Linked DNA regions of Homo sapiens: region 2 is linked to region 1. A link means that fine-mapping ties the variant in region 1 to the expression of a gene that starts in the linked region. Tissue or cell type: whole blood. Region 1 holds a variant in brackets; the other region holds the start of a gene. All regions are shown on one strand. Distances are from middle to middle.

Evidence for each region.
Region 2: RTL10 starts here. The variant in region 1 is fine-mapped to the expression of RTL10 in whole blood (TOPMed, PIP above 0.99).

Annotation. Positions count from the first base shown.
Region 1 is chr22:19,808,866-19,811,643 of GRCh38, reverse strand. The region is part of intron 5 of GNB1L (G protein subunit beta 1 like); the gene reads left to right. Among named protein-coding and RNA genes, the nearest start is that of GNB1L, 45 kb to the left of the region's middle. RefSeq lists a silencer at 1-79. The variant C/G (reference allele first, on the strand shown) is at 1,095.
Region 2 is chr22:19,853,793-19,856,570 of GRCh38, reverse strand. RTL10 (retrotransposon Gag like 10) reads left to right here and starts at 1,697. Exons shown (of 3, transcript NM_024627.6): 1 at 1,697-1,911; 2 at 2,032-2,128. GNB1L (G protein subunit beta 1 like) reads left to right here and starts at 1,697. Exons shown (of 8, transcript NM_053004.3): 1 at 1,697-1,751; 2 at 2,032-2,128. LOC124905080 (a long non-coding RNA gene) reads right to left here and starts at 1,599. Exons shown (of 2, transcript XR_007068005.1): 1 at 859-1,599. RefSeq lists enhancers at 687-1,166, 2,589-2,778.

The DNA.
Region 1 (2,778 bases):
GACCAGAGGTGTTGGTAACACAGGACTGGCCCAGCTGGACAGTGGTATCCACACCCCCAGTGGCACAGGAGGCAGGGTCTGCCAAGGGAGGGGTGCCCAAGATGTGCGGGGAGGGTGTCATAGTGGAGGAGGGTGTGGCTGGAGGCTCAGCTCTTGGGGGAGCTGAAGGGAAATCAGAGAAGAGCCTTTGAGTGGCGACTGTCCCACCTGGTGAGTGGGGCATGGTGGCCCGAGGGCGGGGCATGGGGAGGACATACCATGGAATAGGGGGCGCACACGTGGGGGCTACTGTCCATGCCCACTGCCGAGTCCTCCCCATTCGCTGTGCCCGGGCAGTCTTTGGGGCTGGTACTGGGCAGGACGGCCCCCACGCACAGTTGGGCTTGGCCCCTGCCCAAGGAGAGTCGTTCTGTCTTCAGGCAGATCCAGTACAGAAATAATGAGATAGGAACAGGCATTTATTTGTTCATTGCATTTAAATAACCAATTAGGAGCTACATACACTTTTCTTGCCAATCTGCCAAAAACCTGTTACAAGTTGTATTTATGTGAGAAAGAGGGGCGTGCTTCCTCCCCCGGGACCCAAGGTCTACAGACCCACAGGAATGCTGCAGGAGTTTGAGTCAGCTCTTCCCTTGGCCTGCTGTGCTCCATGCGCTGGTCTCGGCCACCCCCAGGCCGCCAGCCAGCACTCGGTCAGCCTGCGCTGCCCCCTGCCACACGTCCCCTGTGCTCAAGGCTGTCTAACCCTCCTCCTAGCTTTCAGCTCTCCCTGTGGGGCAGCATCTGTCTTTTCCCGGGGCAGCCTGTCTGGGGACCTCTCACATCCTGGGAAAACAGTTGCTTTCCACATTCCCACCTGGAATCTGTCAGACTGGGCGGGAGAAAGCCTCACTGGCCTGCACCCAGACAACGCCCAGGGAGCCGCACTCCCACCCCACTCGGCCGGCTGGGTGGCCACACTTGCCCAAACCTAACATTTTTCCTTCTGGAAACAAAAGTTGCAGTCAGGTGCCAGGCGGAAAGCTCATGGGTGTCTGTAGGAGGCTCCAAGTACAGGCGCAGGCAGGGGCAGCCCCGGGCTGAGGACCCAG[C/G]CCAGGTAGACGTGGTGTGTACCTCTGGTGCTCAGGCCCAGGGCTCACCACTCCCCTGCACCCAGGATGTGGTTCAAGGCGCCGCCACCCCCGCTCCCTCCTGCAGCGCCCAGAGTGGGGCATCAGGGCTGCCCTGGGTTCTGCCCTCACCGCACCCCTCCTCCCCCCATCTTTTGCCCCTGCCCTCACTGGCCTGCTCAAGTCCTTTGCCCTTGATGTCCCCTCACTGTCCCCAGAGGGGTCTTTTGGAGCCCAAATTGAGACAGGCCTTCCTTGGTTGGGGACTGTGTATGGCCGTGTAGGCTGTGTAGCCAGTGCCTGCCTCCTCCGCAGCCCTCCCCACCCCACAGAGGCACAGGTGTGCTCAGGGCGGCTCCTCCTGCCCCTGGCTTAAGTCCCCTACCTCCCCACCCCATTAACTGCTGGAACTAGCCCATCTTCCTGATATAGCGACAAGAAGAACAGATCTTATTTTAAGAAATCTGGCACAGAGGAGTGCAAAAAGTAGGAAATCATAGTCCCAGCTACTCAGGAGGCCAAAGCAGGAGGAACCCAGGAGTTCGAGACCAGCCTGGGCAACACAGTGAGACTCCATCTCTGCAAAAAGTTAGCTGGGCCTGGTGGCCGCACACCTGTAGTCCCAGCTACTGGGGAGGCTGAGGTGGGAGGGTTACTTGAGCTCAGGAGTTCAAGGCTGCAGTGAGCTGTGATGGCACCAGCCTGGGTGACAGAGTGAGACTCTGACTTTAAAACAAAACAAAACTTCTCAATTTAATATGGGGAAAACAGGTTGTGAAATGGGAAAAGTTCCCTTATCCCCTCCCGGGGCGTGCAATGGAGGTGTGTTTCGCTTCCTCGGTGTCCCACTGCTCAAACTTCTAGGGGAGCATACAGACAGGCAGGCTGTGAGGCTTTGACCCCACAGCAGTGTCTAGGGGTGAATGTTTACAGCTGAAGCCCCAGTGAGTGTGTGTTACAGGGTGCTCTTTTAGTTTAGCTGTCCATAGGTGGCTTGTATTAGTCAGCTCAATTAGACCCTTGCCTTATTGCAAGGACAGAAGGCTTTCAGTATCCTGGGGTTCTTGCCTTGGTGTACTGGAAGAATTGGATCACACATGGGCTTGGAGAATGAGTGCAAGGTTTTATTGAGTGGAAGTAGCTCTCAGCAGATGAGGGAGCCAGAAGGGAGATGGTTTTCCCCTGGAGTTGGGCTGCTGGGTGGCCTGGGCTCTCCTCCAACTGCCCGGCCAGATTCCACCTCATTCCGCTCGCTGGTTGATGGCCTGCCAGCATGCCAGCCTCTGTCGGTGTGCTCTTCCACCACCGTGCTCCCCTCAACGTCCTCTCAACGTCCAGCCACTTGTGTCTCTGCTTGCTATGGTCTTGGGGGTTTTTAAAGGCACAGAATGGGGGTGTGGTGAGCCAGGGTGGTCTTGGGAAATGCAGCATTTGGGTGCGAAGGCAGGAGTGCCTGTCCTCACCTAGGTCTATAGGGACAGGCCCGGGGGTGGAGCCCTTGCCAGGTGACTTCCCTTCCTAGCACTTCCCTGCCCCTCTCCCGTATCATTTGGAAATGTGGGGAGTGAGCCAGGCAGTGTGGTCTACACCCTCCCAGACCCTCCCCACAGCCCTGACGGTGGCTCTCACAGACCCTTCCTGAAAACAGCAAAGGGACAATGGTGGC
Region 2 (2,778 bases), 45 kb before region 1:
TGCCCGCCTTGGGCTCCCAAAATGCTGGGATTACAAGCATGAGCCTCCACAGCGCCTGGCCTAAAAATTTTCTTTCTTCAATAATAAAATAACTATAGCTTACTGGATGACCAGTTACATATGTGGTCCCTAGTTGACCAAAACGTTGTTATGCGGTGCATGACAGTTATACACAGGAGAGGGCCTGAAAGAAAAAAAAAATTTGGACCAAAAAAGGCCTTTTCTGGCTCAGTTGGATTCATTTCTTCCACAGGCCCACTGCCCACTCTGCTGATGGGCGCTGAGCTGTAGACTGAGCTGCCTTGAGGCTGAGGTAAGCTGAATTTGTGGGAACCCCCACCTTTCCCTTGAGGGAGGAAGTTTAAATTATCAGGTCAATTAGGAAAGATACAACCGAAAAAAATCCAAATTTCATTCCCACTTCAAGGAGGCGTTTCCTGGCTCGGTGCCACTTTTATTATTTTTGGCCCAGGCTGCTGAAAGCCCCACAGACCCAGGGAAGGTACAATGTGACCTTTGATTCGCGTTTCAGGGATCAAAGTGAGTGAGTTTGGGTGTAAATGCAGATAACATTTCAGAGAGCTTTCATGAAAGGAGTCACTGGACCAGGGCAGAAAGGGAGCTGGTGTGTTACGTGTGTGTTCCCCTTGAGAAGCGTCACTTTCCGGTGAATCCGGCTGCCTGCCCGTGGCCCCAAGGACTCCTGGCTTGCATCCAGGTCCTTGGCCCACAGGCATCAGATCCTGAGCTGGGGCGCCTGCACCCTCTCCCACCTCTTCTCTAGGCACCGTGAAGCCGAGGAGAGGTGGCGTGGGACGGCTTGTGCAAGTGAGAAGAGCACCACCACTTCATCCTCACCTATCTTGTCCCAGGATCTGGGTGCTGACTCGGCAGGCTTGGGCTGGGCACGGCCCTGTGGGGAGGGCTTGGTAGCCTGCCCTCGCTGTCGTCTCCGGGTCCAGCCTCGGCCTGAGTCGGGAAGCACACAATTATATCCACAACAAGGAGGCCCAGAGGCCCTGCCTGCAGCCCCCAGGTATGCAGGTAGAGGGTCCTCTCGGACTGCCTGCCCCCTGCCTCTGGCGCCCAGCCTGCAGCTACGTCGAACCGGGCCCTAACAAGGTTCCCCGCACTGGCAATGAGTGATGAGAGGCACTCCGCGGGCACGCCGTTCCAGGGCGCTCACGAGGCCCAGCAGCCCCGCTATGCCCACATCCACCCCGACACCTGCAGCCCCCCAGGCTTAGCCCGGCCCCGCAGCAGCCCTCTCGACGCCCAGCAGCACCCCAGTGTCTGGCTGACGCCAGGGCAGTAACGGCGGGCTGAAGCAGCATCGGCCCCTCGGTCTACGCCACAGCCGGGTGCAGATTTCCCGGATCTGAGGGACCGCCGGGCACCGTCCGCTGGGGATCATGAGGGGCAGCTTTGGCCCGACCGTCTCGCGCCTGTACACGCGGCCCCACCTGATCCCGTGGCACTTGGCGCGGCGTGGGAATGGGCGCGCTCTCCCATCACCCACCGCGCGGCACTGCCGCGCCAGCAGGGACCGGGAGAGCCTGCGAGGTAGCGGCCACACGGCATACAGCGCAGGCGCGGCCTGGATGGGAGGAGCGCGTGGAGCGTGCCGGGAGCATGCGCCGGGTCGTACACGGCGGCCGCGCGCACGCTGGGGGCGTGGCTGCGCGATGTAATCGGTCTCTGGACGCTGCGCGGCGCTCCTAGGAGCAGGCGTTCCCGACTCCGGCAAGAGGGTCAGTGTGGAGGCGGGAGCCCGGGCGGCCGGCTTGAACTCCGTGCACGCGGGCCTGGAGCTGCGCCCCTGCGTCTTTTCCCGACTTCTGATCCGCAGAGGGGCACTCGGAGCCCCAGCCTGGGTCGCAGTGCCTTCGGTCTGCGGGCCTCAGTTTCTCGGTCCGCGCCGGGGGTTTGTGGGGGCACCTGGAGACATTTGGGCCGTTCTCGCAGTCTCGGGAAGCCGCGCCCGCTCCTTGCCTGGCCTCACGGCGGCCGATCTCGTTCTCCACTTTCTAGGTGGCGCCTGGACTCTCGCCCTCAGAGGGAGGCCCGTCCCACGGTCTGTGGCTACGGATCCCAGGACCCTCTTCGCGGGCGATTCGCGTAGCCTCAGGTGGGTGGGCTTCTTGTTGCCGTGGGCCTTGTGAGCTCGTATTTCCTGCATGGCGGTTGCTGGGGGGCGGGCGGTGCAGTCGTCTGCACTCAGCTTGCTTTAAGGCTTTGGGCAGGTTTTGTTCTTGGGGCTCCTGGGTCTCCCCAGAGCAGAGAACGGCTCCAGCGTTCCAGGTGCTGCCTTTGGCCTTGTGGGGGCAAACACACATGCGCCGTGGTACCTGCCCCTTTAGGATAGTGCTGTCCAGTCTAGAAGGGCCGAAAGTCTTCTATGCCAGGCAGTGTGGGGAGAAAAGTAGGGGGACCAACAGACTGATAGGCGTGGGAGGGCTAAGGTTCTCAAAATGGTGAGAGTGCGGCCCAGGGTTAGGAAGGCTCAGGCCCAAAGCAGGCCTGGCTGGCTGGTGCAGGGAAGCCTTCTCCCAGACTGCAGGGGACACAGGTGCGCAGGTGAGTGGGCAGGGTAGGGGACTGGGAAGAAGGGAAGGCAGAGATCTGGGTAGCACACTGTGGCTCCCGGGCATGGGGTGTGGTCATTGTGGGCAACCTGGATACCTAACCTTGGCTGGTGGTGGGAGCTGGGCCCTGGATCGGGGTCACTGCTTTTTTAGAGCTCAGTGAGGGACTGGACTGGACTCGACTCACGTCCAG